4 linked regions of the Homo sapiens genome follow. The protein of the gene in region 3 purifies or fractionates together with the protein of the main gene of each other region. This does not show direct contact. Each region holds a gene or a part of one and is shown on either strand. Other genes may lie near its edges.

Evidence for each region.
Region 1: the proteins of KATNAL1 (region 3) and KATNIP purify together in Homo sapiens (tandem affinity purification; one large-scale study listed by IntAct). This does not show direct contact.
Region 2: the proteins of KATNAL1 (region 3) and TUBA4B purify together in Homo sapiens (tandem affinity purification; one large-scale study listed by IntAct). This does not show direct contact.
Region 4: the proteins of KATNAL1 (region 3) and DIAPH3 purify together in Homo sapiens (tandem affinity purification; one large-scale study listed by IntAct). This does not show direct contact.

Annotation. Positions count from the first base shown.
Region 1 is NC_000016.10:27,548,841-27,557,451, reverse strand, and holds the start of KATNIP (katanin-interacting protein), read right to left. Parts: upstream 7,309-8,611; 5' UTR 7,282-7,308; coding exon 7,275-7,281; intron 3,839-7,274; exon of another isoform or gene 3,819-3,838; intron 1-3,818. Other genes in the region: GTF3C1 (general transcription factor 3C polypeptide 1), read left to right, coding at 7,562-7,782. UniProt on the Homo sapiens protein: May influence the stability of microtubules (MT), possibly through interaction with the MT-severing katanin complex.
Region 2 is NC_000002.12:219,260,785-219,268,792, reverse strand, and holds part of TUBA4B (tubulin-like protein alpha-4B), read right to left. Parts: intron 2,273-8,008; coding exon 2,227-2,272; intron 1-2,226. UniProt on the Homo sapiens protein: Tubulin is the major constituent of microtubules, a cylinder consisting of laterally associated linear protofilaments composed ofalpha- and beta-tubulin heterodimers.
Region 3 is NC_000013.11:30,225,064-30,233,071, reverse strand, and holds part of KATNAL1 (katanin p60 ATPase-containing subunit A-like 1), read left to right. Parts: intron 1-1,599; coding exon 1,600-1,758; intron 1,759-2,477; coding exon 2,478-2,604; intron 2,605-5,525; coding exon 5,526-5,660; intron 5,661-8,008. UniProt on the Homo sapiens protein: Regulates microtubule dynamics in Sertoli cells, a process that is essential for spermiogenesis and male fertility. Severs microtubules in an ATP-dependent manner, promoting rapid reorganization of cellular microtubule arrays.
Region 4 is NC_000013.11:59,986,879-59,994,886, reverse strand, and holds part of DIAPH3 (protein diaphanous homolog 3), read left to right. Parts: intron 1-2,303; coding exon 2,304-2,414; intron 2,415-2,700; coding exon 2,701-2,819; intron 2,820-3,612; coding exon 3,613-3,729; intron 3,730-8,008. UniProt on the Homo sapiens protein: Actin nucleation and elongation factor required for the assembly of F-actin structures, such as actin cables and stress fibers. Required for cytokinesis, stress fiber formation and transcriptional activation of the serum response factor.

The sequences.
Region 1 (8,611 bases), on a different chromosome or scaffold from region 3:
TCAAAAAAAAAAAAAAAAAAATCCACACCTGTAACCGTAGCACTTTAGGAGGCCAAGGGGTAGGGTTGGATCACCTAAGGTCAGGAGTTCGAGACCAGCCTGGGCAACATGGTGAAACCCCGTCTGTACTAAAAATGCAAAAATTAGTTGGGCGTGGTGGCATGTGCCTGTAATCCCAGCTACCCAGGAGGCTGAGGCAGCAGAATCACTGGAACTCGGGAGGCGGAGGATGCAGTAAGCCAAGATCGCGCCACTGTACTCCAGCCTGGGCTACAAAGTGAGACTCCACCTCAAAAAAAAAAAAAAAAATCAACTTCACAGAAAAATGTCAAGAATAGTACAATGAATTCCCATATCGCCTTCACCTGGATTCAATCTTACTCATTTTGGCATCTCTGAATTCCAATGCACGGAAGGCACTGAAATGTTGAATCATGGAATGAATCTCATAAGGAAAAATAAGCAAAACATTATGGGCCGACTTCCTATAAGTTAAAGTGACAGGAGGAACGAACTCTGAAAAAATCTGAGAGAAAAGAAACTAATCAGATAGAAGGATTGGAACAAGAAGAAAACAGAACAGACACAAAGAGTCTATGGGATGTATGTTTATTTCACCTGCTGAATGCTTGCTTTGTTTTATTGCATTTGATTGTTATTTTATTATTTTTTTTGCTGGGTTTAAGTAGTAAGAGAAACAGACAAATCACCAAGAAGCCAGGTAAATACCACACAAGGACAGGAGAGACCAGCTAAACCGATGGTGTACTCTCAGCAAAACCTTCCTAATTCAACCATCACCTGTTTGCAGTCTGGGATTATTTGGACAAGTGAGGCTAAATATCATCTTGGCATTATTAATTATTTGAGAAAGTTTGCTAAGCAAATGAACAGTATAAACAAGGGAAATGTTGAATATTTGCTCTAGGGGAGCAGTGAAAAGCAAATGAACAACTTCCAAATCCTTTCTAATTATATCAATGTGCTGAACTTTTGTCTAATTATTATGTTCCTTGAAAATGAAATAGAATTTTTTTTCCTAAACCATTTCATATTTTTAAAGTACTGGGGAAAATTCAACTTTAACAGAAAGGCGAACATTTTCATAGGCAGAAAACACACACTGCCAATGTACCTTCATGGAATAAAAAATGTCAAACATTGGATTTTCTCTTAAGCAAAGAGTGTGCTAATTACAAAAGTTATCATCTGCTAGAGAGCTTCATCAGCACGCTTCCCTCTTCTGTCAACTGTGTGGAATAAGTCTGCCTATTTGCAGATAATGATAACAACAGCTACTATATAGGAACTTTTTTTTTTTTTTTGAGACAGAGTCTCACTCACTGGCCCAGGCTAGAGTGCGGTGGTGCAATCTCAGCTCACTGCAACCTCCGCCTCCCAGGTTCAAGCAATTCTCTGCCTCAGCCTCCCGAGTATCTGGGATTACAGGCACCCGCCACCACACCTGGCTAATTTTTGTATTTTTAGTAGAGACAGGATTTCACCATCTTGGCCAGGCTGGTCTTGAACTCCTGACCTCGTGATCCACCCATCTCAGCCTCCCAAAGTCAGGCATGAGCCACCGCGCCTGGCTGTAGGAACTTTTTTTTTTTTTGAGACGGAGTTTCGCTCTTGTTGCCCAGGCTGGAGTGCAATGGCGCAATCTCGGCTCACCACAACCTCTGCCTCCCAGATTCAAGCGATTCTCCTGCCTCAGCCCCCCAAGTGGCTGGGATTACAGGCATGCACCATCACACCCAGCTAATTTTGCATTTTTTTAGTAGAGACAGGGTTTCTCCATGTTGGTCAGGCTGGTCTCGAACTTCTGATCTCAGGTGATCTGCCTGCCTCGGCCTTCCAAAGTACTGGGATTACAGGCGTGAGCCACCGCGCCCAGCCAGGAACATTTTTTTATATGCCAGACTTGATGCATTGTTTCATTGAAGCCACAAAACAAGGTAGGCTTCATTATCATGTCCATTTTACTGACAGGAAAACCAAGGCTCAGAGAGGTCAAAGTGTACAGCAGAGATTCAAATCCAGGGCTATCTGGCCCCCAAACCTAAGGACATTACACTGCATCACAGAAACAGATAGGACCTGCCCAAAGTCAAAATCAAAAGGCCAGGGAAAGGGTTGTGAAAAGCTATGGTGATTAAGACATGCCGAATAAACTAAATTACAGTCCAGTTTGGAGGGCATCTGCTAGACATTTAAGCTTTTGTGAACGTAGGAAGTAAACATCTTTCTAATAAGGCCAGGCTTGGCTTACCTAGTTAGTTAGAATCACAATAAGGTATGCTTCACTTTATCCAATAAATAGGTATGTGCCTATAAAATTATGTATAAATCAGGGCCAGGTGCGGTGGCTCATGGCTATAATCCCAGCACTTTGGGAGGCTGAGGCAGGTGGATAACCTGAGGTCAGGAGTTCGAGACCAGCCTGACCAACATGGTGAAACCCCATCTCTACTAACAAAAAACAAAAAAGTTAGCCAGGCGTGGTGGCGTGCACCTGTAATCCCAGCTACTCAGGAGGCTGAGGCAAGAGAATCGCTTGAACCTGGGAGGCAGAGGTTGCAGTGAGCCAAGATCACGCCACTGTACTACAGCCTGGGTGACAGGGCGAGACTCTGTCTCAAAAAAAAAAAAAAAAAAAAAAGTGTAAATCAAAGTTTAAAAAATCAGAACAGAAAATGGGATTCTTTGGAGGTCAAATATGACCCTAGGGTAAACACTTCTGAGAATAAATTTTTCCTTTTGGGGGCCAATCTGAAAATGAACATACCCCTCTACTAGGCTACAATAACGTCCTAAGACTGCAAGTACAGAGATGCTCATTAGAAGGCACAAAGCAGCCTTCCTGAAAATGGACTGTAGCAATGTTTCTCAAAGGTGCAGATCCTGGGAGAAGGAGGGGTCCACAAAGACAAAAGTATTTTAATCATAATTTGAAGAGTATTTCACTGTGTTGAATTTTTTTTCTTTTGAGACAGTCTCACTCTGTTGCCCAGGCTGCAATACAGTGGCATGATCTTGGCTCACTGCAACCTCTGCCTCCTGGGTTCAAGCGATTCTCTTGCCTCAGCCTCCCCCAAGTAGCTGGGACCACAGTTATGTGCCACCATGCCCAGCTAATTTTTGTATTTTTAGTAGAGACAGGGTTTCACCATGTTGGCCAGGCTAGTCTCAAACTCCCGACCTCAGGTGATCGCCCACCTTGGCCTCTCAAAGTGCTGGGATTACAGGCGTGAGCCACCCCATCTGGCTGTGTTGACATTTGTACTTATGACACAAAGCAATGGTGGGTAAAACTGCTTGCAGTCTGAATCAAGGCAATGTTACCACAATGTACTAGAAACCTTCCCTCCTTCCTTCCTCCCTCCCTTCTTCCATCCCTCCCTTCTTTCCTCCTTCCTTTCTCTCTCCTCTCCCTCCCTTCTTTCCTTCCTTCCTTTCTCTCTCCTCTCTCCCCCCACCCCACCCCCTGCTCTCTCTCTCTCTAGACAAGGTCTTTTTGCCCAGGCTGGAGTGCAGTGGCACAGTCATGGCTCACTGTAGCCTCAACCTCCTAAGCTCAACTGATCCTGAGTGGCTGGGACTACAGGCACGAGCCACTATACCTGTCTAATTTTTTACTTTTTACAGAGATGGGGTCTCACTAAGTTGCCCAGGCTGGTCTTGACCTCCTGGGCTCAAGTGATCCCCACACCTCAGTCTCCTTAGCAGCTAGAACCACAGGTGCATGCTACCATGCCTGACTATTATTTATTTATTTATTTATTTTATTTATTTATTTAGTAGAGATGGAGTCTCACTATGTTGACGAAGCTGGTCTTGAATTTCTGGGCTGAAGAGATCCTCTTGTCTTGGCCTCCCAAAGCGGTGGGACTATAGGCGTGAGCCACTGAACCCAACCATCAGGACATTCTTAAATAAAAATAATTGTTTGTTTGTTTTAAATGTGAGTACATGGCAGTAAATAAAATAATAGACAAATTTTGGTTATTCAGTCTTGGGAATTTGGCAGAAATTTTCTCAAATATGAAATAAGTGAGTCTGTCACTTCAAGGAAACAGCTGACAATATTTGCTGCCAATGTTAAAATTCAAGCTGTCAAGTGAAAACAAGTTGAAAACTTGTTTCCATTACCTTGAGTTTGATAGTTTCCTAATACTTAAACTCCTTTTTAAAATGAAATAGGTGGTGATATTAACAAATGTGATTTTTTAAATACCGTATAATGGCATCTGAAAGGTCAACGTTTAGATTTGCATAACTCACTGAACCAACATTTTCTAAACGACCAATGGCTGATGTTATAAAACCATATATGGGTAAAGCAGCCAATGAAAGGGCAAGATAGACCAATGGATTTTAATGTAACACAGTATAAAAGTTCACCTATAAGGCTTCAGATGACACACTGTGACTAACATTTAAGAAACTGCCACTTGTGGCCTGGCATGGTTCTTCATGCCTGTAATCCCAGCACTTTGGGAGGCCAAGGCGGGCGGATCACCTGAGGTTGGCAGTTTGAGACCAGCCTGACCAACATAGAGAAACCCCATCTCTACTAAAAGTACAAAATTAGCTGAGCGTGGTGGCACATGCCTGTAATCCCAGCTACTTGGGAGGCTGAGGCAGGAGAATCGCTTGAACCCGGGAGGCGGAGGTTGCGGTGAGCCGAGATCAGGCCATTGCACTCCAGCCTGGGCAACGACGGCAAAACTCCCGTCTCAAAAAAAAAAAAAAAAAAAAAAAACTGCCACTTGCAGGCCAGGCATGGTGGCTCACGTCTGTAATCCCAGCACTTTGGGAAATGGAGGCAGGCTGATCACCTGAGGTCAGGAGTTTGCGACCAGCTGGCCAACATGGGGAAACCCCATGTCTACTAAAAATAAAAAAAATTAGCTGGGCATGGTGGTTCACACCTGTGATCCCAGCTACTCGGGAGGTTGAGGCAGGAGAATCGCTTGAACCCAGCAGGCAGAGGTTGCAGTGAGCTGAGATCGTGCCACTGCACTCCAGCCTGGGCGACAGTGAGACTTTTTCTCAAAAAAAAAAAAAAAAAGAAAAAAGAAACTGGCATTTGCTAAATTTTGTATAGTATGAAAGGAGAGTGTCTACAGTTATCTGAAAAGGCAATTAAAATGTTTCTCTCTGCTCCAATTATATATTTGTATGAGGCCAAATTTTCTTCATACACACCAGCCAAAACAGCATAACAAAAAACAGTTTGAATCCTGAAGCAGAAATGAGAGTAGTTTTTTCTATTTCTATTGAATAAACTTGAAAAAACATAAAATAATGCTACTCTTCCTATTAATTTTTTGGAGGCAAATGTAATTGTTTTCCATTAAAAATATTATTTATGTTCAGAAGTAATGGGTTTATTGTTGTTGGAGTTTTTTTGAGACAGGGTCTAGCTATGTTGCCCAGGCTGGTCTTGAACTCCTGAGCTCAAGCAATCCACCCACTTCAGCCTCCCAAACTGCTGGGATCACAGGTGTGAGGCACTGCACATGGCCAATTATTATTATGATTATTATGAGCCACTGCACCTGGCCAATTATTATTATTATTATTGGGTTTTTTTGAGACAGAGTCTCGCCCTGTTGCCCAGGCTGGAGTGCAGTGGCAAGATCTCGGCTTCAAATGATTCTCCTGCCTCAGCCTTCCAAGTAGCTGGGATTACAGACATGTGTCACCACGTCCGGCTAAGTTTTAGTAGAGACAAGGTTTCACCATGTTGGCCAGGCTGGTCTCGAACTCCTGACCTCAAGTGATCCACCTGCCTTGGCCTTCCAGAGTGCTAGGATTACAGGCACGAGTCCATGCCCGGCCCAATTTTTATTATTTTTAAAGGAACTAATTAATGGACATCTTAAGATTTTCCCAGTTTAAATCTTCGATATGGTAAATATCATAAATATAAATAAACAAAGCTCTTTGAGGTAAGAGCATACAGGGGTCCCAAGGCTTAAAAGGTTTGAGGACTGATGTTCTATAGCAACATTACATTGACCTTTCCAGAAGGCAAAATGGTAAAGCACATTTTATAGTACCTCTAAAGTACAAAGGGAAAAGATATATTTTAAGCATATGACAGAATGTTCAATTAAAAACATTTTCTCCACACTACATTCAGTGAATATAAAAAGAATGTGGATTCCCCAGGAACAAATTCCCGAGAAGTGAGGGACAGTGCTGTAATTAGAAAAATGATCTGGACTCTAGCCCAGACCCTACCAGTCTCTCTAGACTTTAGTCTTCCCATCTGCAAAGTGAGATATCAGAATAGCCTATTTTCCATTTGCTTCCAATTGTCAATACCATGACTCTAATCAGGGATCCCTAAATGGGGGCCCACAAGCTGTCTCTGGCCTTCAGAGTGACTGGCCAACCCTGTTTTTGAGAAGTACCCCAAGAGGACAATCAGCTGGTGCTTGGTGAGCAGCTTTCCTTTCAGGTGAGGAATTGATTTTCAGTTACAGCCTCAATCCGGCTCACTAGACTCTCCTCTGCAGACATCTGCATTTACAACCTCTGGAATAAAGGGACCCTCAAAACCGGTCCAAATCTCAAGCTCCATAATTCAGCTCCAGAGACAGGGTGTCTGGGTTTCTCACTCACTCTGCTACATGCTGGTTGTTTGACTTTGGGCAAGTTCCTTAACACCTCTGAGCCTCAGTTTCATCATCTGTAAAATGGAACAACGCTGAACTCAAAAGGCTGGTATGAAGCTTAGCGAGGTGTTGCCCAAGAGTACTTACAGAGTTCTTGGTACTGGAAAGCACTTTGTTAAAGGGAGCTATTATTATTAACGCCAAGGCACAGAAAGGGAGTATTTCCTAAACTCCCTTCACCCCCCACACCAATTCCCTTTCCCAGCACCTGACGATTGCACTCCCACGATCAAGCTTGTTTTCATATCAACTCCCAAATCCGACAGTTCCACATCCCAACATTCACAAGACCCTCCTCAGACCTCTACTTCTCCTTCCCCACCCTACATCCCTTCACTGAGCTCCCGGCCAGTACCGGTTTCCTTCACGACCACAGCCGAGCAGAATGGTCACAGCACTGACCACTCCCCCAGGCTCTCCTCCGCGTTCCAGACCACTAAGCCTCCCTATCCCTCATTTCGGAGACCCCCTTGGGTCAGGAAGTGGTGGTCCAGGGGTTCATGGCCTAGGATTCTGCCCAAAGCGCGGTCGGGAGGGATGGGAGAATAACAGCCCGACCTCCCGGAGGGGCCCACAGACACTCACCGTCCATCCCTAGAGGCGGCGGTTCCGGGAGCTCGAACCGGAAGCGGCCTCTACACTGTTTGCAGTTCCCCTGGTTACTGCGGGGCCCCGGACCAATGACGGTGGAGCTCCACTTACTGAGCCCGCCCCCGGGGAGTGACGTCATGCCGGCGCGCTGGAACTCCTCCTCCGAACCCTGGGTCTGACCCACCTCCCCGGGCCCCGGATCGTTGTGCGCAGGCGCGATGGACCAAGGCCCTTGGCGGTGCGTTGCGCATGCGCCCCGGGCGCCGCCGACTGAAGTAGCAATGGACGCGCTGGAGTCGTTGTTGGACGAAGTCGCTCTGGAGGGGCTCGATGGCCTGTGTCTGCCAGCGCTGTGGAGCCGGCTGGAGACGCGAGTGCCGCCCTTCCCGCTGCCTTTGGAACCCTGCACGCAGGAGTTTCTCTGGCGGGCCCTCGCCACGCACCCGGGCATCAGCTTCTATGAGGAGCCTCGGGAGCGACCCGACCTACAGCTCCAGGACCGGTCAGCGGGCGGCCTGGCCTGGCGGGCGGGCGGGCGGGCGCAGGGCCCGGGGGCTGATGGAGCTGGGGGCAGGGCGGGGGAATGGAGTGGGGCTGTGCAAGTACCGGAGGCCTGTTGATTGAGTTGGGGCACGGCGGTAAGGCTAATCTGGGGTCCCTCAGGCCTGGCAGGGCCCTGGAGTCCGATGGAGTTGGCGGGGGGAGGGGGAGAATCTAGTGATGTCCCGTTTTGTCCCTGTGTGTGTTTTGGGGTAATGGCGAACAGGATTGGGGATATTCTTCAGGCTTAAAAGAATGTTTCCTTTACATTGGAGGATAGGATTAGAGCAGGAAAGACACTTTAGAGCCAGACTGGAGACTCCTGAGATCAACAGACCCTCATGGTATATTCATTCGGTGCAGATAGCCTAGGGCAACTCGAGATCTGCGTATCAGGACAATTAGCGATAATGCTAAAAGCTGACATTTATCAGGGACTTCATGGGTGAGGTGCTGTTCTTTTTTTTCTTTTTTGAGATAGAGTCTCTCTCTGTGGCCCAGGCTGGAGTGCAGTGGCGCGATCTTGGCTCACTGCAACCTCCGTCCGCCTCCCAGGTTCAAGCGATTCTCGTGCCTCAGCCTCCTGAGTAACTGGGATTACAGGCATGTTCCACCACGCCCGGCTAATTTTTGCATTTTTAGTAGGTATGGGGTGTCATCATGTTGGCCAGGCTGGTCGCGAACTCCTGACCTCAGACAATCCGCACCTCTCGGCCTCCCAAAGTGCTGTGATTACAGGCGTGAGCCACGGCGCCCGGCCACATTGCTGTTCTAAGAATCTATTCTAGAAG
Region 2 (8,008 bases), on a different chromosome or scaffold from region 3:
CTTTTTGCATTCCTGAAATATTTCTTAATTGTTTAATGAGGATGACTTCTCCAAAAATGTAACACTTCATTGACTATTTTTATATAACACAAAGGCCTGACTTTTCATGATTTTTAGATGACTGAGATTAATCCATAAATAATCTGTATTCCAGCCCAATTACTTCTCTACTTGTCTTGAGCAAAAATCTTAACCTCTTTGTCAATGTTCTCCTTTTGAAATGTAGACAATAATAAGAGCCCCTCCTAGAAAAACTATGAGAATTAAATGAAAGAATGCATGCAAAGTGCCTGGCCCACTGCCTAACACACACTAGGGTGTGCCATGCATGTTGGGTTCCCCTTCCAATTTCCCACCCTCAATCCCTGATGTCATAGTAAGAGAAGGTAATGAATTGAGGCTGGGCGCAGTGGCTCAAGCCTGTAATCCCAGCACTTTGGGAGGCCAAGGCAGGTGGATCACTTGAGGTCAGGAGCTCGAGACCATCCTGACCAACATGGTGAAACCCCCTCTCCACTAAAAATACAAAAATGGTGTATGCTTATAATCCCAGCTACTCGGGAGGCTGAGGCAGGAGAATTGCTTGAACCCAGAAGGTGGAGGTTGCAGTGAGCCGAGATTGCATCACTGCACTCCAGCCAGGGCAACAGAGTGAGACTCCATCTCAAAAAAAAAAAAAAAAAAAAAGATAATGAGTTGAGCTGAGACCTCAAGGACAGGAGAAATCCCAGGTCCAATCCTGGGGCTGCCTTGGCTCACCAATCACCTGCCTGGTGCTGCACCTCTGAGCCTGACCAGCCAGTTCTGTCCACAGACCCAGACATCGTCCTGGCCCCCAGAACTACTAGCCCATGCAAGGTGTCTCTGGCCCCTCTGGGAATGATGTCTCACACTGGAGGCAGCAGTTTTGGGGCAAAGAACTCAGCCCCTGGCCGGGTGCAGTGGCTCACGCCTGTAATCCCAACACTTTAGGAGGCCGAGGTGGGCAGATCACAAGGTCAGGCGATTGAGACCATCCTGGCCAACATAGTGAAACCTTGTCTCTACTCAAAATACAAAAATTAGCCAGATGTGGTGGCAAGCGCCTGTAGTCCCAGCTACTTGGGTGGCTGAGGCAGGAGAATCGCTTGAACCCGGGAGGCAGAGGTTGCAGTGAGCCGAGATTGCGCCACTGCACTCCAGAATGAGACTCCGTCTCAAAAAAAAAAAAACAAAAAAAAGAACTCAGCCTCTGGAGTCACACAGACCTGGCCTCAAACCCCCATCTCTCTGTGATCCAATACAAGTCATTTCACCTCAGCTTCCCTAGCACCTTTTTCATGACTGTAGAAAGAGAAGAATCTCATAGCCGGCGGCCTGTGTTGTTACATTGCTTAGTTCTGCTTATTAAGCACTAATAAGGTGCCAGGTGAAGGTGGCACTTTATACACATTATCTCATTTAATCTTTACCACATTCACCTTAGGTAGGTAGTTTTATTACCCCCAATTTATAGATGAGGAAACCGACCCTCAGAGAAGTCAAGTAGCTTGCTCAAGGCCATGAGCAAAACCAAGAATATTTAGAGCAGGGATGGCCTGGCACCAACCATGCTCTTAACTGTTCTTCTATCCTGCCTGGTAGGGAGGTGGGTAAAAGATATCAAATAAGCCCCAGGCACAGCCAGCTCTTGACAGATGGGAGCACCCCCTTTTCCCTCCTCCTTCTTCTCCCCACTGATCTGTAACTGACATGAGAGGTCAGACAAAGGCACAGCAGATGGGCAGGGTGGAGGGAGGAACCAGAGGGGAGAAGCTTCCATGGAGGATGTGTCCCCATGGTGGGAAGGTGGGATCAGAGCCCAACAGTGAACCTGTGGCAAGGCCCAGGGTCTGGAGATCCTCAGCCAGCAGAGGAAATCGCCTACACTTTCTGCTCAAGTCCTGCTTCCCCCACACTCCCCACACCTAAATTCAGACCCCCTCAGCAGCCCTGCTTCTCAGCCTAGGCTCAGCCCCACAACCTGGTTACCATTAAACTTTCCTTCCCTACCCCCTGTGATGCCCCCCACACCTGCACATTTGGGGGCCACAGCCACATCTGGAAGTCTCTTTCCCTCTCCCCACCTCGCCACATACTGTAGCCCCATCACCATGTGGACTCCCAAGGTACCTTCACGCCAGATATCTTGGGCCCACTGGGACCCTCACTTGCATGCTCAGTCCCCCCAAGGCCCCTTCTACTCACCATGCTGCCTGGACAGGGGCTGGCTGGGGTCTTGTCTCTCTGTCTGCTGCAGGATAGTGAGCAGGGATAGATCTGTGAGAGGCCTGCAGCGGCCAGCCAGCCTCCTCCTTATACTCGCTGGGTGGCTCTCAGCAGGTGGATGTTGTTAGAAACGGCCTGGGAGGGCAGGGCCTGTTGACTTGGTCACAGAGTACGAGGCAAGCTCTGGGCCTGCACCCAAACAGGGGAGCCAGCTGAGGTGGGCAGAGGAGGGGCCAGGGCTAGTAACTCCACACAGGTATCCAGGCCTCTGGGTACATGGTATCTGTTGTCAGTCACGCAATCCCATTTCCTGGTGGCACAGCCTGCACTTCACAGGTGGAAGATGATTTAGAAATCAAGACCCTGAGCTCCAGCACCGCCCCCACCCATCAAACCCCTGCACTCCCCTGCCCTAGGGTTGCTGAGGGCTGTAAGTCGACTGTGGGTGGGACTAAGAAGATCTCTGCAATGATCCAGAAATAATGAGTCCTCGGCCAAGAGATCAAGCCTCAGGACATCCTGCCTGGAAACTCAGAATATCATAGAACAAGCGACCTAGAGCTTGGTTTTAATCCCACCTCTAATAGCTACTAGCAATTAAAACTTCTTTTTTTTTCTCTCTCTGGAGAATGGGGAGAGGTAGTATTACGAGGTACTAACAAGGTAACCTTTCTTAAGTGCTTAGTCCAAAACAGCTGTTGCTCTCCAAGGGCAAAGCAAGAGGATGAGCAGGGCCTCAAGGCACTTCCTAAATGTCTCTTCCTAGGCCATGGCAAGTCACTGCTGCTCTAGCCTGGCCTTATGTCCCCAGAAAAGGAGTCTCCCGATAGTCTTAGGCAAAATTCTGAAATAAAAAGGCTAGTCTCTAGCATTTGTATCCTGCTTTATGCATCTTTTTTTTTTTCTTTTGAGAAGGAGTCTTGCTCTGTTGCCCAGGCTGGAGTGCAGTGGTGCAATCTCAGCTCACTGCAACCTCCACCTCCGGGGTTCGAGCGATTCTCCTGCCTCAGCCTCCTGAGTAGCTGGGATTACAGACACCTGCCACCAGGCCTGGCTAATTTTTATATTTTTAGTAGAGACACGGTTTCACCATGTTGGCCAGGCTGGTCTCAAACTCCTGGCCTCAGATGATCCACCTGCCTCAGCCTCCCAAAGTGCTGGGATTACAGGCATGAGCCCCTGCGCCTAGTCTGCTTTATGCTTAAGGCACCTTCTCTCCGTACCTCCTTTGAATCCCTCAACAACTCTGTAAGGTAGGCAAGGCAGGGCCTCCCTTTCCCAGGATGAAGGAAAGGAAATTGAAATCCCTAGTGTCCTGCCTGAGGTCACATGGGGATTAATTAATGCTGGAATTAAGATTTATCTGGGACTCGGGCTCTGCTTCCCCTCTTTCCACATGGCAGAGTGTGCACAGCAGCCCCTCCTCGGTCTTTATCTCCTTCCTCCCAGTCTTCAGTTCCATGGCCAGCCAGGGTCACTCCCTTTTGTACCCCTCAACTGTCTTGCCTCCCACTAGCTTCAACATCCTTGTTTGACTAAACCAGAACCCTGGTTAAATTTGTTTTGTCCCCAGCTCTGTGTCTGCACTCACCCAGCTAAACAGTGGCCATAGAAAAATCCAGAACCATGCTGACTGATGTTTCGAACGCATGGCCACTAGCCTCAAATGGGCCCTCATGTTGCCTGGAAATCACACCACAGTAGCCCCCCATTAGCCACTTTCTGCAGTTTCAGTTGCCTGCAGCCAACCACAGTCTGAAAATATTAAAGAGAAGGTTCCAGAAAAACACAATGTATACGTTTTAAACTGCACGCCATTCTGAGTAGTGTGATGAAATCTAGTGCCATCCTACTCCATCATGTCTAGAACATCCCTGTGTGCAGCGTATCCACACTGTTGACACTACCTACCCATTAGCCACTGAGTAGCCGGATCCCTTATCAGATCGACTGTGGCGATGCTTCTGCTCATGTAACCCTTATTCTACCTCATAACAGCCCCACCGCTCAAGAGCAGTGATGCTGGCATATTACTATCATTGCTTTATTTCTCTATATCATTATTGTTCTTTTTTTTTTTTTTTTTGAGACAGGGCCTCACTCTGTCACCCAGGCTGGAGTGCAGTGGCATGATCTCAGCTCACTGCAACCTCTGCCTCTTGGGTTCAAGCAATTCTCCCACCTCAGCCTCCTGAGTAGCTTGGATTACAGGCACATGCCACCACGCCTGGCTAATTTTTGTATTTTTATTAGAGATGGTGTTTCACCATGTTGGCCAAGCTGGTCTCGAACTCCTGACCTCAAGTGATCTGCCTGCCTTGACTTCCCAAAGTTCTGGGATTACAGGCATGAGCCACTGCACCTGGCCTATTGTTGTTCTTAACCTCTTACTGTGCCTAATTTATGAATTAAACTTGGTCATATGTATGCATGTATAGGAAAAAACAGTACATAAGGTTCAGTACTATCCGCCATTTCAGGCATCCGCTGGGGGCCCTACAACATATCTTTGTAAGTAAGGGGGGACTGTTGTACAGTTCAGTCCCTCTTCCAGATAGCAGCCAAAACCAGGACTAGGTCTGCCAGATTTAGCAAATAAAAGTATTTTATTTAGCAACCCTATCCAGGAAGTAGTTGCTAATGTGAAATTTCAGCCACTGTGTTACATAGTGCAGTTGAAACAGGGGACTTTTTCAGAGACCCTGTCAACCCAGTAAGCTAGGGAATGATCTCAAGTTGGTTAACTCTGGCTTTGGCTACAGACTGAAGGTTAGAACTCTTCTGTCTCCCACCTGGAACAAAGAGGCCCAAAGAAGAGACCCAGCCACTTAACATATCAAAGATAAGAAAGCTCAGCCTTCTACTGGGTTGGCCCATGAAACCATGGACCTCAGGAATTATTGTCCAGATGGAGTGATATGGGGCCCAGAGGGCCCACTGGGCTCAAAACTCTCTTGTGTAGCACTGAAACTTCTCCCAACTGGCCTTGGGAGTTGGACTCTCAGAGTCAACCTAGGTATCACCAACTCCAAAAAGAAAACTATCCTAATGGCAGTCAGCTGTCTTATGTAAAGCAGAATGAAAAGACTGAGTTTTGTGATCTTGGCTCACTGTAACCTCCTCCTCCTGGGTTCAGGCAATTCTCCTGCCTCAGCCTCCCGAGTACCTAGGACTACAGGCATGCACCAACACACCCCGCTAATTTTTGTGTTTTTAGTAGAGACAGTGTTTCACCATGTTCGCCAGGCTGGTTTCAAACTCCTGACCTCAGATGATCCATCTGCCTTGGCCTCCCAAAGTGTTGGGATTATAGGTGTGAGGCACTGTGCCCGGCCAAGACTGAGATTTTTAAAGCATTTTAATGCATCTAGATTAAAACATAAGAGGCCATGAATACTCTTAATTTCTTCAACAAATATTGAGTGCTTGCTGTATGCCAAGCACCATTTCAGGTGCCAGGGATACAGTGATAAACACAAAAGTTTATGCTTTTTTGGGGGGTGGGGAATGGAGTTTTGCTCTTGTTGCCCAGGCTGGGGTGCAGTGGTGCTATCTCGGCTCACTGCGACCTCCGCCTCCCGGGTTCAAGCAATTCTCCTGTCTCAGCCTCCCAGGTAGCTGGGATTACAGGCGCATGCCACCATGCCTGGCTAATTTTTGTATTTTTAGTAGAGACGGGGTTTCATCATGTTGGTCAGGCTGGTCTCGAACTCCTGACCTCAGGTGATCTGCCCACCTTGGCCTCCCAAAGTTCTGGGATTACATGTGTGAGCCACTGTGCCTGGCAAGTTTATGCTCTTAAGAAGCTTACATTCTAGCCTGGGCAACATAATGCGACTCTGCCTCCACAAAAAAAAAAATTTTTTTTTAATTAGCTGGGTGTGGTGGCACATGCCTGTGGCCCCAGCTACTTGGGAGGCTGAGGAGGGAGGCTCACTTGAGCGCAGGAGGTCAAGGTTGCAGTGAGCCGTGATCATGCCACTTGCACTCCAGCCTGGGTGACACAGTAAGACCCTGTCTCAAAAAGAAATAAAATGGAGCTTTCATTTTCATGGGGAAGACAGACAATAAACAAACAAGAACATTCCAGATAGCAATAAGCATGTGAAGAAAACAAGGCTGGATAATGGAACAGAAAGATATGCAGGGGCTGCTATTTTAGACTGAACAGAAGCCACTCTATAAGAAGGTGATATTTGTTTTGTTTTGTTTTGTTTTGTTTTTGAGACAGAGTCTCGAGTCTCGCTCTGTCGCCCAGGCTGGATGGAGTGCAGTGGCACGATCTCAGCTCACTGCAAGCTCTGCCTCCTGGGTTCACGCCATTCTCCTGCTTCAGCCTCCCGAGTTGCTGGGACTACAGGCGCCCACCACCACGCCAGGCTAATTTTTTGTATTTTTAGTAGAGATGGGGTTTCACCATGTTAACCAGGATGGTCTCGATCTCCTGACCTCATGATCCGCCCGCCTCGGCCTCACAAAGTGCTGGGATTACAGGCGTGAGCCACTACACCCGGCCAGAAGGTGACACTTGAACTGAGGGCTGAATGGTGAGGAGTCAGCGAGGCAAGATCTGGAAACCAGTTCTCCAGACAGACAGAATAATAAGTGCAAACAATCATAGGTAGGAACTAGCCCAGTGTGTCCAAAAACCCAGAGTGAGGAAAGGAGAGAGCTCTACAAGATGAGATCATAGAGGTGGAGGGGCCTTGGAAGGAGAATGGCTTTTATATAAGTGTAACAGGAGGGTTTGAAACAAGCGTCATTGCCTAGCTTGTGTTTCAGAGAGATGACTGCAGCTGCTGTGTGGAGACTGCATTAGGGTTTCAAGCCTAGAGGCAGGAAGCTGGTTCAGAGGCTGCTGAAGGCATCTAGGAATAACGGGATGGTAGTAGGGGGTGGTGAGAAGTAGCTGGGTTGGCAGTAAAGTGAAGGACATACTAGTGTAGGTGGTGGCAGAGCTTCTCAACAGCCTTGCCTGCCCCTGCCCAATTCTTCACTAGCAAGGTCCTGATTTTATTTGAGTATTCACCCTTGCACTTGCTTGAGGAAGACAGCTTTCCCCCAGACCTAGGGGTGTGTACAGGTTAGTCCAAACCATCCATGGCCATTTAACTCCCTCCCTCCAGTGACTGGTTTAGGCAAAAGCTAGTGAGATAGAAGGGGGAAGTCTGCTAGGGCGCTTCAAGGAAAGGTTTTTCTCCTGATAAAAACAGATGTGGGAGGAAGCCCCCCATTTCCTGCCTTAAGACAGAGTCATATAAGGACATGATACTTAGAGCTGCTGTATCTTGTGTTCCTGAGGGAAGATGTCACCCGCTCTTTGAGGATGACAGCGCAGAAAGCTAGAAACACTGGAGTTATTGGTGACATGACTGAATCAACCCTGGAAAGACCCTATACTCAGATTTCTTGTGGGATAATACATGCCCTCATTGTTCAAGCCATTGATAAGTTAGGTTTTCCATTATTTGCAGCCAAAAAATTCTAACTTAAAAGAGGGAGAGGAGAGAGAGAGAGAGAGAGGAAAGTGATCCTAAAATAAAGATTTTATTTATTTATTTATTTATTTATTTTTTTAGATGAAGTCTCGCTCTTGTCCCCCAGGCTGGAGTGCGATGGTGCGATCTTGGCTCACTGCAACCTTCGCCTCCTTCAAATGATTCTTCTGCCTCAGCCTCCCGAGCAGCTGGGATTACAGGTGCCCGCCACCAAGCCCAGCTAATTTTTGTATTTTTAGTAGAGACGGCGTTTCACCATGTTG
Region 3 (8,008 bases):
ACAAAAAAAATCTGCCTGGACTGATGTCCTGTAGCATTTCCCCAGTGTTTTCTTCTAGCAGTTTCATAGTTTGAGGTTTTTAACCTATTTTGATTTTATTTTTGTATATGGTCTTTAATCCATTTTGATGTTTGTAAATGGTGAGAGATCAGCATCTAGTTTCATTCTTCTGCATATGGCTATCCAGTTTTTCCAGCAACATTTATTGAAGAGACTGTTCTTTCCTTAAGGGATTTTTGTAATGTGGCAGATTAAAGTATATTTGTATACCGAGGGGAAAGAGCCAGTAGACAAAGAGATACAGGAAAGAGAGAAATTAATTAAAGGAGTAATGTCATGAGGAGGTGAAGTTTATAAATATCGTACAGTAGCTATAAACAGCTGCTAATGTTAGAAATTAACTCCTATAGGAGGTGGCCACATTAATGGCATTACAGGATGGCCCTCTCAGAGAGCATGGAAAAAGGCATCGGAGAAATAAGAACTTTGCTCTGGTTATGCCTATAGCATCAATTGGTCGTTTTCATGGTTTTTAAAATCTCAACCTCATGCAAAGTTGAGGGCTCCCTAACAAAGCAAAAAAATATTTTTGTAAAACTAGTGTTTCAAATTTTAGTGATTCCTGGTTGATCTGTGTTAAAATTCTATAGCTAGAAAAGCATTTGGACAGTTTCTGAATTTGGAGTTTATGAAACTTTGACATACACATAGTTTTCAAAGCCTAAATCCCCAGAAGCTTGTCAAACCAAAGTAGCAATTGGATCAGAATTCCTCTTAAGGAATCACCAGGTATTATGCAAAAAATTTAGTGTGAGCTATGTATTTAAACTCTATTAAAAATTCTGGAAGAAAATAATTATTTAAGAACCCATTAGTTTTTAAGACTAGAGAGTTGGATTCTTTGAATAATTTTTATTCTTCACTGATTTCTTTTTATAGAATACTTTTATGTTTGTTTTCAAAACTAAGAAGTAACTGAAGTTTAGTTTTTATTCTGTACTGGTTCTTTCATCACTATTACTATTTTATATAAGCTAACGCATTAAAATGATACAAATCTTGCTAATTTGATTATGTTTGAATTACCACTGGATTTTTTACTGTTAACCTTATTAACTCATAAATGGGTCTTTATTTTTTACTGAAAGCTGTGTATTATAAATGCACTGTGGAAGATAGGTTCTGTCCCTTATAGAGGGTAAAGAATGTGTAATTCTGCCACATGTGATAGAAAATGTCTTATTTTTATTATGTGTAAACAGAACAGTTGCTTTTAAGCAGTGCTGAATATTATATGTATATGTCATATGCTAGGTTCAGGAAACTGAGATTATATCTAAATATATGAGAAACTTGTTTGTTGTCTAGTCTTTTTGTTAGGTTATCTCTGACTACCTCTGGCTTGAGACATTTTGTGAAATTTCTTCATTTTTTCTAGCTATAAAATAATACTCTTACTAAATGCATCATGATTTTACTGTGACAATTTTGAGTTTATCTTTTGATGGAAAAATCTCAATGTACATTAATAGCTGATGATAATTTATAAAAAAATTTTTTAATCTGATAAATCATTTAATTTGTCTTTTGAAATTTCAGGGTGTACTGATGGTTGGACCCCCAGGCACTGGTAAAACTATGCTAGCTAAAGCTGTTGCCACTGAATGTGGTACAACATTCTTCAACGTTTCGTCTTCTACACTGACATCTAAATACAGAGGTGAATCTGAGAAGTTAGTTCGTCTGTTGTTTGAGATGGTGAGTGACGATATATTCAGATTTCAAAGTAGTGTGTGTAGGCCTATGATGCCCCCATAAATCAGTTCTGTCCACCTGGAATCTTTTTTGAAAAGGGCAGTGTAGTTCTATTTTAATAGTTCTTGACACACTGATGAGAATTGGGGTGATGGGTTTTGTGGGGTAGTTGGTGTATCTTCAGTGTATCTTTTTCTTTAAGGTAAAGCAAGGCCTTTTGGCATCCTGTCCACTCAGGGTGGAAGAAGAGACTTTGGTCGTATATGTGGGTTGACTGGTATTTCTGGATCTCTAGGGAGCTGATGGAACAGAAGAATATTTTCATATGTATTTTAAAAATCAGAGTCTGACCCGTCATTAAAGTTTATTCCTTTTTCATATGGGATTTGCAGTAACTTAAGAATGTATATTTGAGGATTGAGGTTGATTTATTTTTGAAAAATTTTTCCATTATGGAAATTTCCAGATATGAAAGTAGAAAGCATAGTACAATGAACCCCTATGTATCTATCACCCAGCTTCACCAGCCATATAACCTTTATTTTTAGAAATTTCTTTTTTCTCATGGGAATGATTGATTTAGCCTTTGCCATAACCAGATGATGGCATTAAAACAGTGAGAAGTTTCTGCTCTCTTTTGCCATTGTTTTAAAAGATTTTTTTAAATACTCCAATTGTTTTATGAGATTATTGAATGATTTCTTTAAAATATTTTCATAAAGGCTAGATTTTATGCCCCTACCACGATCTTCATTGATGAGATAGATTCTATCTGCAGTCGAAGAGGAACCTCTGATGAACATGAGGCAAGTCGCAGGGTCAAGTCTGAACTGCTCATTCAGATGGATGGTAATTGATATTTAATTATTGTTTCAAAACTCTCATTTTTAAATATTTTGTGTAAACTCATAATCAATGGATGGATTAGAAGGCAGCCTGAGTTTAATTATTTGTTCATTCACCCATTTATTTGTTCATTTGTTCATGCACTCAGAAAGCATTTCTTGCATACTTGTTAGAGATCATGCACCATTTCAGATTCTGAGGTTACAAAGAAAAAGGCTACTATGGCCTTCAAGGAGCTTACTGTTTGGAGCAAAGTTTCTGGAGGCATGATCTAGAGTCCTAGGGATCTTTGAGACCCTTTAAAGAATCTGCAAGGTCAAAACTATTTTCATAGGAATATCAAGTCATTGTTTGCCTTTTCTTTTTCACTCTCATTCTCTCACAAGTGTACAGTAGAGTTTTCGAGAGGCTGTAAGACGTAGGGTATCATAAAAAGAAAGCAGAAGCAGATATGAGAATCCAGCTTTTCTCTAGATAGACATTAAAGAGATTTGCAAAAATGTTAAAAAAAAAAAAAAAAAAGCCCCTCTTCTTTTTTTTAATATTTTGGAAAACATACTTTTCATAAACATATGTAAATAAGTAATGAATTTATCATTATTTTTAAGTGAATTAATATTTTTAAATTTCAATTTTAGGTTTTTTCCATACAATTTACCCATGCACCATCTATTTTAAGTTTTAAAGATATTGATAGATACACTCCACACACAAAAAAGCTCTTTGGGGTTCTCAATAATTTTTTTTGTTTAAGGTTCAGAGTCTTGCTGTGTTGTCCAGGCTGGAGTACAGTGGTGTGAACACAGCTCACTGCAGCCTTGACCTCCTGGGCTCAAGCAATCCTCCTGCCTCAGCCTCCTAAGTAGCTGGGACCACAGGCACATGCCACCACATCTGGCTAAGTTTTATTTTTTGTAAAGACAGGGTCTCTCCATGTTTCCCAGGCTGTAGTTGAACTCTTGAGCTGAGATGATCCTCTGGACTCAGCCTCTCAAAGTGCTAGGATTATAGACATGAGCCACTGCACCCAGCCTCAGTAATTTTTAAGAGTATAAAAGGGTCCTGAGATCAAAAAGTTTGAGAACCACTGATCTGGATGGGAAGCAGGCAACTGATCAGATGAGTATAATACATTATGGTACATTCTGGCGTAGAAGTAAAGTCTGGGTGCAGTGGAAAACACAGGAGAGGCACCACCAAGACCAGGGGAGTCATGGAAAGAGATAGCCAAGTTGGACTTTGAAGCATTGATAGGAGTTATCAGGACAGAGAAAAAGGGCCCTGAGGAGCCATAGAAGGAAAAGGGTTATGGGCTCAGAGCTGCTGTTTAGAGATAAGTTAGCTGTGTGGTAGACAAGAGGCCGTTCAAGCAAAACATTAGAACAGATAAAATACATTAAAAAATATCCAGGGTGAGGGACTGAGTGCAATGGCTCATGCCTGTAGTCCCAGCACTTTGGGAGGCTGAGGTAGGAGGATCACTTGAGGCCAGGAGTTCAAAACCAGCCTGGTTAACATAGCAAGACTTTAACGTAGCAAAAACTTTAAAAAGTAGCTGGATGTGGTGGCATGTGCCTGTAGTCCCAGCTACTCAGGAGGCTGAGGTGGGAGGATAGCTTGAGCGCAGGAGTTTGAGGCCACAGCGAGCTGTAATTGTGCCATGGCACTCCAGCCTGGGCAACAGGGCAAGAACCTGTCTCATAACAACAACAACAACAAAACACCAACAATATCCAAGTTGTGTTGTTTCAAAACAGTCACGGTTATTCATCAACTGTGGATACTTACTGAATACTTACAATGTACTATGAGACCCTTCCCTCAGTGAGTTTACCATGTTAACTTTTGCTAAAGTATGAGAGAAAGGAATGAGTATGTTTTATTTTTGAAGTGGGGTATAGGAGAAAACATTAGGTGTTTAAAATTGGAAAAGGAAATCACTGAATACAAATTTAGTCAGCTGAATTTCATTGAGGGATATTTGTGACTATTGTTGATTATTAGTTGGACAGCTTGATTCTTTGTCATAATGACCGAAGTAGGAGTTTCATAATAAGAAAATATTATATGTTTCAGTGAGCTGAGATCATGCCAGAGCACTCCAGCCTGAACAACAGAACCAGACCTTGTTTTTTTAAAAAATACTGTATTGAACTAGGTTGCTTTAAGTCCACTAGCACTTTATTATGCTAGACTAGAAAGTCTTATCAATAAAGTTTATGGGGTTTTTTTATCTTTTATTTCTCACTACATATTTTCTAAAGTTTCTGTTGTGTGACCTGAAATTTTTTATTCTAAAATTTTAATTCTGAAAAGGAGACACTGTGTATATACATGTAGTTGGTTTGGTTATTTTTATCTGTGATTACTGGGTTCATTCTTAAATGTCTTATTTATTTTTTACAGGTCACTTAAAAGTTTAAAGGACAACATCATGGAAATATAACCTGTCTTTCAAAATTATAATTGCATGCTAGAATATTAAGTAAATGTGAACCCTCTGTTTTCACTTCTTGAGAAAATAGATTAAAAACTAAAATAAAATTTTTGCGGAACTTTATGATTTAAAAGAAATAAGAGGAATAAAACAGAGCCTAATCTCCCATACCTTTTCTTTTAGGAGGAAAATACATTCATTTTCTTACAGAAAAATGGATGTTTTTATTGGATTAAAATCCTGCACTAGGTTGCACAAGAAAAAAAAAAGAAAGAAAAAAAAAATCCCACACTAGGTTATGTGAATTCTTCTACTTCTTTGTTTTGTAGTTATCTGTTAGTGTGTCTGGTTTTGCCACCACACAGAGGTCAGGACTGCACTTTCTTTATCGTTGATTCTGCCACTTTGGCTAAAAGAAATGTTAATTGAATGAAAGAATAAAGAGTTGTAAGAAAAACACTATCTTTTCCTCCCTTACTGTGTATAGGAGTTGGAGGAGCTTTAGAAAATGATGATCCTTCCAAAATGGTTATGGTATTGGCTGCTACTAATTTCCCGTGGGACATTGATGAAGCTTTGCGAAGAAGGTTAGAAAAAAGGATATATATACCTCTCCCAACAGGTATGATGTCTTCTCTATTTTGAGCTTTCTGTTACTTTTTGTTACCTTTCCCATGTATCTAAATCTTTATTCCATTGCCATTCTGCTTAAAGAAGTTTATAGCATCACAAAATTAATTTGTAGTAGATGTGAACACAGGCCACAGTACTCTATTGAAATTTCTTATGTTTCAGAGAAATTCTTAAGTTTGGAACAATATTCATCTTAATAAATATGGTAGCACTTTTAAGTTTTCACTTTTCAACTTGAAGTTTTTTTGGATCTTTTTCAGAATATGCTGTTTTGGAGAGAGAGAGAGTGTGTGTGTGTGTGTACACATATTTATTTATTTATTTTGTGACACAGTCTTATTCTGTTGCCCAGGCTGGAGTGCAGAGGCATGATCTCAGGTCACTGCAACCTCCACCTCCTAAGTTCAAGTGATTCTTGTGCCTTAGCCTTCCAAATAGCTGGGATTACAGGTGTGTACCACCACACCCAGCTAATTTTGGTGTTTTTAGTAGAGACAGGGTTTTGCCATGTTGTCTAGGCTGGTCTTGAACTCCTGGCTTCAAGTGATTTCCCGCCTCGGCCTCATAAAGTGCTGGGATTACCGGTGTGAACCACCACGCCCAGCCTGGAAAATATAGTTTCATCCTGTTAATAAATGCTGAAATATCCATGAATGAATGTTTTCTTTTTATTTTGAGGTAAAATTTACATACAATGAAATGTACTTAAGTATATAATTTGATGAGTACAAATCTGTACACCTGTTTAATCAATACCCTAATCAAGATGTAGGGCATTTCTATCATCCTGTAAAGTTCTGTGTGCCCCTACCAGCTAATCCTCCAATAGGCATTCACTGTACGTGATTTTTATCACCATAGATTAGTTCTTTCTCTTGTTAAACTTCATATAAATGGAATCGTGACTGCATGTACTCACTGTGTCTGGCTACTTTCACTTGAGGTTCATCCATGTGATCACATGTATCAGCAGCTTATTCCTGGTATGATTATACCACAATTTGTTTATTCTCCTTTTGATTGGTATTTAAGTTATTCCTAGTTTTTTGGCTATTATGAATAAAGCTGTAAACTTTCTGGTACGTATCTTTTTTATGGATGAATGTTTTCAATTCTTTTGGATAATATAAGAAAAGAAAAGATGGGTCATAGGGTAGGCATATGTTTAGCTTTTATAGGAAATACCCAAACTGTTTTTCAGAATGGTCATACCATTTTGTATTCCATCATCAATAAATGAGAATTCAAATACTTCCATATCCTTGCCAACATGTGGTGTTGTCACTATTTTAATTTCAGTCATTCTAGTAAGTATGAAATGCTGTCTCATGATTTTAATTGGTATTTCTCTGATGACTTACGTTGAGTACCTTTTTATGTGCTTTTTATGGTCATGGTATACTTTTTGTATAGTGTCATTTCTTTTTCCCAGTTTTTAATTGGATTATTTGTTGTTTTATTAATGCTTTTTATGTTATTAGATCTGTGCATTGTGCATATTTTCTTCCAGTTTGTAGTTTGCCTTTTGATTTTCTTTATGGTATCTCTTAATAAGCAGACATTTTAAATTTTGATGAAGTCCTGTTGACAATTTTTTTTAATGAATAGTACTTTTTGTGTCTTAAGAAATCTTGTCTATCCCAAAGCTGCAAAGTTTTTCTCCTGTTTTCTTTTGGAAACTGTATTTATATCTGTGATTCCTCTTGAATGAATTTGTGTGTGTGTGTGTGTGTGTGTGTGTGTGTGTGTGTGTAGATGAGTCATTTTTTTCATATGTATATGCAGTTGTATCATCACTTACTGAAAGGAGTTTTCTTTTTTCATTGAATTACTTCGGCACCTTCATTGAAAATTATTTTGTTGTGTATGTGTGGGTCTATTTCTGAATACTATTCTGTTCCATTGTATTTTAAATACACACACATATGGTTATCTAAGTTATTTGTTTTTTTCTTGAGCAAGCTTTGGTAACTTGTGCCTTTCAAATAATTTGTCTATTTTTTTTATAAGTTGTCAGATTTGTTTGGATTTGACCTAATGTGAATGTGGAAGCTGATTAAATAGTTATGGGAGATTGTGGAAGCTGATTATATAGTTCATGTCTGGTTCTGGAACTTGAAGTCAGTAAGGAGGGCACTTAGGAAGAGATGATGAATGTGAAGTGGTAGAAGTAAGGACAAACTCTACCTGTGGGGGTGGAATCCATGAGGATACATTGGAATCTATGTTGAACTCTTTTTTTCCACTGAGACTCCTAACCTTGATGAATGGACTTTCCTACAGAAGAAGCTAGCTAAATGTATACCTGGCTCAAAAGTCAAAAAAGGTGAAGGAAGA
Region 4 (8,008 bases), about 30 Mb from region 3:
TTTTCACTATTTCTGGTTGAATCTGAATTTTGTGACTTGACACACAAGGCTATGCCCTCTCTCCTGTCTCCTTGTTCAACCTCATTTCTTGACTTCTTCCCGTTACTCCCCTTTCTACCTTGACAAACCGCTCATAAAATTTGAATTGCTTGTAATTTAAAGGTTCCATGTCTTTGAACATGTTAATTCCTCGGCTTAGATCTTCCTTCTTCACTTCTTCATCAGGCCATTTTATTAATCCTTTAGTTAGTACTTTATTCAGCTGTCTTAGTTCTCATTTAGCATCTCCATATTCCCATTATTTACCAAACATATTTCTTACAGTATATAGTATATTTTTATCATTTTACTGATATATCTTCATTGGACAGGCAAAATGTCCTGTTAACCTTTGTAGTTTTTTAACGTTTCTCGATATCTCTAGGCGTTGATTGATATGGCATAAATGCTGATTGACACTCCCTTCTGCTGGTATGCTAAATTATTGTGAAATTGTGTGATACCGCAGGTATGTATCTCATTATGTATAAAACCTACAAGGAACTCCTTGGTCTTTACCTTGATTATAGAATTATTTATCCATAAAGAAACAATGCATTTTAGTGCATACCTATGTGTATTCACAGACATGTTTGCATGATTTAAATTAAATAGATTGTAAGCCATGCTAATGGCAAATTATGATTAGAATTGGGAAGCAATTTTATAAATTTAACTTGAATTCATTATTTCAATTTAATTTCCTATTTTTTTTCTTCTATGGAGAATCACCTTTTTGAATAGTTCCCGGAAATAATTTGGATTATCCTTTCCCTTATTTCTAAATTTCATGCTACTGTTGTCTACATATATGTATTTTCCATTTAGGTAATATTTGCTGCTAGTTTTTGTGTTCCTTGTTTTTGCTACTTTCTGTGAGTTATCTGTAATTTGTGTTTTTCTAGAAGCCAGGTGACTGAGTTTGATTTAGTTTCTCTGAATGTAGAGAAGCATTATTTGCTCTTTGAGATCTTTAAAAATTATATGGCATTGCTGAAGAAAACATTTGTGGGTCCTGGGTAATGACTGGCAAGGGGGTGGAAGGAAAACATTTTAAACTTGACTTTTTGACATGAACTGGTTACAGCTGAATGAACATGTACTGGAAAGGTAGATTCTGTTAAGTTTTTTTTTTTTTTTTTTTTAAGTATGTTTCTCTTCTTCCTCTCTCTTCTGACATATTTCCCATTCCCACTTTAAACAACCTTAAGTTTCGACAGTAGAGGCATGCTGGTCAGATTTTAATGCTTAGATATCAAATATAACAATTACTATATATTTCAAACAGCAGGAATTGAGAATTCTGTTGGTGTCTTACTCCAAAACAGCATTTTAAATTCATATAAACCTTGCCTTAAGGGATGGAGAAAAGACAATTTAGGGAACAGCATGAGGTTAAACATATTGATCAGTAGTCCAGTAGTTCTTGCTAGACTTGGATAGAATGTAGACTTTAGAAAAATAGTATTATCAACAACAACAAAGAATGCTTCTCTAGAAAGACTGTCTTTTGTTTCCATTTTATGGATTTTGGAGGATGAAAGATATATTTTAGCCAGGGATGAAAAAAGTGGAGAAGTTGAAAGTTGAAGTGTTAAACATGAGCTGAAAATTTTGTGATTTAAAAATTTTTATCATTTAAGCTATATATTAAAGGATTTAGTGAGCTCTGTTATTTATTTCTGGTTAAAACATAGGGTAATTTTGAATTTTTGCCAAAGTATGAGAACCATTGCCTGATAAATTAACTTCTAGAAATTAATTATACAGTGTTTATTTATAACCTTGTTAACTAGAGTTAAGACCCTTGTTGACCTTGAAGTCTTTGGGACTTTGAGTCTCTCTTGATGAATGGAAAACTATTTTATTATCCTATTTTAGGTAAGTGTTATCTATCCAATAGGTATATTGGATATGTTCAATTTCTGTTGTATGTGTGTAGAGTGATATTATTGGACAAGAACTTAGCTTTTGGTTACAAGTGTTTTTTTTTTTTTTTTTCTATTTTTTTATGGAGCAGTAGTAACGGCTAATATTTTTCCATCTTCCTTTCACCTCAGTAACCCTCAAATAAATGAGAAATAAAAAACGCCACTGAAACTTTATTTCTTCTGTAGTTTATAACTGACTGAAATATTTTGCTTACAAATTGTTTTAATAGGAAAGATATTTAATAATGCTGGAACAAAACCTTGAAGTTTACGTTTGTTACTCTTTCTTTAATGTTGGAAACCCAGTCTGTCTCACTGTTTGATCTCTTGTAGGTAGCTTGTATGCAGCTCATCAATGCCCTGGTTACATCTCCTGATGATTTGGATTTCAGGCTTCACATCAGAAATGAATTTATGCGTTGTGGATTGAAAGAGATATTGCCAGTAAGTGCCCTGCAGTCTCCTTATTAATATTTAAATTAAAAGAGTACTTGAGTAGGGGGAAATTTAGATAAATTACCTTGAAGAATAATTTATCTGTGGGAAAAGGCTTGAGTTAAAAAATCTATTTTTGAAATATAGATGATAAGATTCGAGTGTTATTTAACACTTTAAATGTTCGAATGCTATAAATCAAGTTGAATGGTTGGTTTATTGTTTATATGTTTTTTATTCTTTTGCATAATTAAAAACAAAATCATTCATCATAATTTCTATTTCATATCTCTAGAATTTAAAATGCATTAAGAATGATGGCCTGGATATCCAACTTAAAGTCTTTGATGAGCATAAAGAAGAAGATTTGTTTGAGTTATCCCATCGCCTTGAAGATATTAGAGCTGAACTTGAATATCCTTTTGTTCTGAAGTCTAGTCAAATCATATATAAAATTATTGCTAAATCCAAAATACTCAGCCACAAATATTTAGCTCATTTCTATATAAACAACATGAAATCAAACCTTCATGCATCAGAAGAATGTTATTATTTTATTAATTTGTGTGTTTTTATGAATACACATATATGTAAGCGTATGCTGCAACTAACAAATGGATTCTGTAGATTGGTTTCTTATATGTATGTGTGCAATCTATTTTGTTTTCTTTTTATATTTGACACTTTTCCTTCTACTTAGGGCTTTTTAGCATTAGGAATAGGGCAGCCTTAGTCACTGGCTGCTCTTTCCCTGCATCTTGGGTGCATACTCATGGGTCGCATGTTAATCTGTGGGTCTGCAGACGTCTGTGCTCCTCATGAGACCCAACAGGTTCCTATCCTCACCTGGGGCTTCTTCATGGTAGATAATTAACCTGACCACCAGCTCTGTTGGTCAGGCAACCTTTAGAATTCAACACAGTATTCATAGCCAGCTTCCCTACTACCTTTGTTCCCAACAGCATCTGTGCTTAGGGGAGACAGATTAGTTGGAACTGATTGTAGAAGGGAAGTCAGGAAGTGTCAGGTTAAGTCACCATTTCCAGAGTTTTTCCACTACCCTCAATCCTAAATATCTGTATTTTATGTTGAATATATAAGATGCCTGTATTACAGTTCCAAAACCTTACAGGACAAATTCTGTCATATTATTATAGTTGTTTGGTGTAGAGTATAAATAAATCCATATATTCCTTAATCAACTCACTGAAGCATATGATGTTTACAACATGGTGTGGAGCACAGTTAAAGAAACTAGAGCAGAGGGATATTTTATTTCTATTCTTCAGCATCTTTTGCTGATTCGAAATGATTATTTTATAAGGTAAGAGGAAGTTGTATTCTAATGTTTTCTTTCACTAATAAAAATCTATTAATTGTGAAATTCACATCATATTTGCCTTTGACAAGCAAATGATTTTTATTTTTGTCATAACACTGATTCATAGAATGTGTTGTTTTCTCTGGGCATATATTTAGGTAGACGATGGTAAAATGATATTACTATTACTTTTTAAGCTCCTGTGGATTCCTGGTTACAACCTTTCATCTGAATAAAAATGCAAACTAGCAACAAATTACTAGTTTATCATGTGACAGATAATATTTTCTAGTTATTTCTTAGGCAGTAGGAATGATGTTGATAAGTTTCTTCTTATAAGTTACATGAAGGGCACTAAACATTGCTTTTATTAGTGTTTAAGTAGCTGGCAAGTCTTAATAATACAGTTGCGTTTAATGTTGCTAATATATCAAAAAGCCAGACAAATGGCTTTTAAAGATTGATTATATCCTAGCCATCTGAGGTTAACAAATTATTTATCTTTCTTTTAACCTCATCTACATTATAATGTGACTAAATATGGAGATTAGTGCCTAACTCACTGGGTTGTTAGGCAGATGAAATATGGGAATGTGGGTAAAAGTTCTAGCCAAACCCTTGGCATATGGTGTATGCTTAGTAAATGTTCTCTATATCTACTTTCCATTTCTATTACTGTTTTATGGTGGAAGCTGAGCTCTTTGAATATAAAATCATTTTGTTGCCACCAATTTAGGTTTGCTGAAATTTCATTCTCTTATACTTTGGGTGTTTTTTTCTTTTCTACTTAATTTCAAGTAGAAGAGTTTTTTAGACAAGCTTCATTCAGGCTGTGTCCTCGGGGTAACATCAGAGGGTATGACTCAGTGATTTTTTGATGTACCTAACAAGCAAGGAGGAGACCCAAAATGTTAAAACTTTAGGTTTTTCAGGATGAGGATAGGACATGCATCAAAATTACTCTCTTTGTAGCCAGAAATCCCACTGATATTCTAAAATATGAGTTTAGTAACTGATTTTTTTAATTTGCTCCTTTCTGATATTTTATTAAAAATAAACCAGTTTAAATATTTATATTATAAATGCTAGATTAAGAATTGCTAATTTAGATTTTTAAAATATCATTTGTACCATGCTGTTTATGATACTATATTTCTACTCCAAATTTACTTAAAAATGACATTGAAACTTCTATTTACTCTAAAGTAAACTCCATACATTTTTTGATCTGTGTGTGGTCAGTCCTGTCGTCTTCTGGAAGTTTGATGCTGTTTGAGTACCCAAGAATTTAAGACTGTTGTTTGTTTTCAATGGTTTGAACATGCCTGTAGTCCTGCAGGGGTTTTATCATACTTATGACTTTGATCCCTTCATCTGTGCCCCAAGAGAGCATGTGGTTGTATCTAGCTTCAAAACAGATTAAAAAACACAACTGTTTTGGGTTATGTTCAGGTGATACTATCATTTGAGTTAAATCAAGAGTCTTGGAGAAAGATTAAATTGTGGCATTACCAAAATGACATTAAGGCATAGAAATTTAGATATTTGGCCATCTTTTGAGTATGAACTTTTACATTTGATGTTCACCTATGTTAATTCCTTCTTTGGCTCTTTAAACCCCGGGTATCTTGATTCCAGATATGGTTGCCACAAAGGCAGTGTTCTTCCTGTGACTGCTAGACTCAAGACAACTCCATCAGTTTTTTCCTCATGTTTCCAAACTCTCCTATTTATTATTGTTGTTGTTAATATTTCTTTAAAAAAATTTCTTAAAAAAATTCTTAAAAATATTTCTTAAAATATGCTTTTATTCCAAGATTGTGTCAGAATTGTGATAATTTACATATATTTTTGTCATGCATTTATTTTTTAAAATTTTATTTATTTACATACAGTAAAACTTACTCTTGTTGGTGTACACGTCTATGAGTGTTGTTTTTTTGGTTTTTACCTTCATTTTTTGGTTTCATCTACCTCAGAAGGACCTCTATTTTACCTTTTCAGCAATCTTAGATAACCTGTAACATTTTTTGTTTAATGAGCTCTTTAAACTACTTTTGATACGAACACACATAATTTTTCTTTTTCTTTTTACAAACAGTAGATTGTTCTATTGCAGAATGTTAAATGTTCTCATTTGAAAGAATTGGTGGATGGAAAAATTAGAATCTTTTTTCATTTCCACTTTTGGGACAAAAGAAAGTTTGACAGAAATGGAATTCGATTGGAGAATATATGTCAAAGGCAGCCCCTTTTCCCTGGGAAAAAGGGAGGGGGCTGAAATACAGCAAGATAATTGGGTGGAGAAGATCAAATTCAGTTTTACACCAAATAATTAAGGCTTACCATGTGTAAAATACCACGCTAGTTAAATGCGCATGGGAGATAATTTCTGATATTTGTTAACAATACCACAGAGAAAAGTGAAGATTTCAAAAACTCCTCCAACAAAAATAGCATTTTGTCAGTAATGACAACTTAATGTTCATCCCTTAATTAAGTTATTCACATATTCCTCAGACACATTTACTACCTCACCAATATTGCTCATGGAGATTATTTTCTAGATTGACATTTCTGGAATCCAGAAATGTTGTGTATTATTCTTTGATAGTATTGCCTCCCCAGTGAGTTTTTGCATGAAATTTCAGCCACATTATAGATGAACTCATAATTGGACATTGTGGAGTTGAGGAAAAACTTACTAAAATTATGATTTCTTAAAAAGATGACATGAAATAGCTTGTGTTGTTAATTTAAAACATTTTCATTTTAAAAACATTAGAATAATGTTGAGTAGAAAAGAAATACATCATCTAGATTTTTAAATGTAATAGATGTAAATGTGTTTAAATGTATGTACCACGTGTAAATGTGGTTATTATGGCAGAAATATTTGGGGATGGGAGATAATGTCTTGAAAGAACTTGAACAAATAGAGGCAAGCATAGATTAACACTTTTGATTTGTACCCAGGAACCGTTTCTTAAACATTTTCACTCTATGACAGTTAATGATCATTAGTCATCTTTGCTAGTGTTAAGCTGTAGTGGATTTTCTTCACTGTAATAGATGGTTTATTAGGTGTAAGGTAAGTAGGTCAAGAGCAGTGGGTCATAGTTTATGGAAAGGAAAGTCTAAATGGCTTGAGGGACCCACACTTTAGAATTTAGAGAGGAAAAGTATGTTAAAAGTCATTAAGGAAAGAAGTTCTAGGGGATGATCTGAGATGGAGGACTGTGCTTCATTAGAATAGTACCCAACCTGTTTATCACTTTAGTTTGGTTTTGCTTATAAAATCTTTTATCTGTTTTATTTACATTTATTAAATCTTTTTTTTTTTGTCCCTTTCTGAGACATCTTTCTTGTTCCAGTTTTCTCTTTAATCCTCTGTACTAATGATGAGTGACATCATTTTTCATATTACCGGCTTTCCAAAGTGAACTAATATTTGGCATAACCAAAAAGGTACAATATCTAAAAGCACTAGGATATTTTAAAACCAGTCTTCTCAAGAAGAGATGATTATGCTTTACAAGAGGAAATATTTCTACCATTAGCCTTATTTCACTAACAAGTTTCTGGCCAAAAAGAAAGCAATAAATACCTACTCATGCTCAACTAATCTCAAATAACTTTTTTTTTTTTTGGTTTGGTCTTTTTTTTTTTTCTTTTTTTTTTTTTTATTATACTTTAAGTTTTAGGGTACATGTGCACATTGTGCAGGTTAGTTACATATGTATACATGTGCCATGCTGGTGCGCTGCACCCACTAACTCGTCATCTAGCCTTAGGTATATCTCCAAATGCTATCCCTCCCCACTCCCCCCACCCCACCACAGTCCCCAGAGTGTGATATTCCCCTTCATGTGTCCATGTGATCTCATTGTTCAGTTCCCACCTATGAGTGAGAATATGCGGTGTTTGGTTTTTCGTTCTTGCGATAGTTTACTGAGAATGATGATTTCCAATTTCATCCATGTCCCTACAAAGGACTTGAACTCATCATTTTTTATGGCTGCATAGTATTCCATGGTGTATATGTGCCACATTTTCTTAATCCAGTCTATCATTGTTGGACATTTGGGTTGGTTCCAAGTCTTTGCTATCGTGAATAATGCCGCAATAAACATACACGTGCATGTGTCTTTATAGCAGCATGATTTATAGTCATTTGGGTATATACCCAGTAATGGGATGGCTGGGTCAAATGGTATTTCTAGTTCTAGATCCCTGAGGAATCGCCACACTGACTTCCACAATGGTTGAACTAGTTTATAGT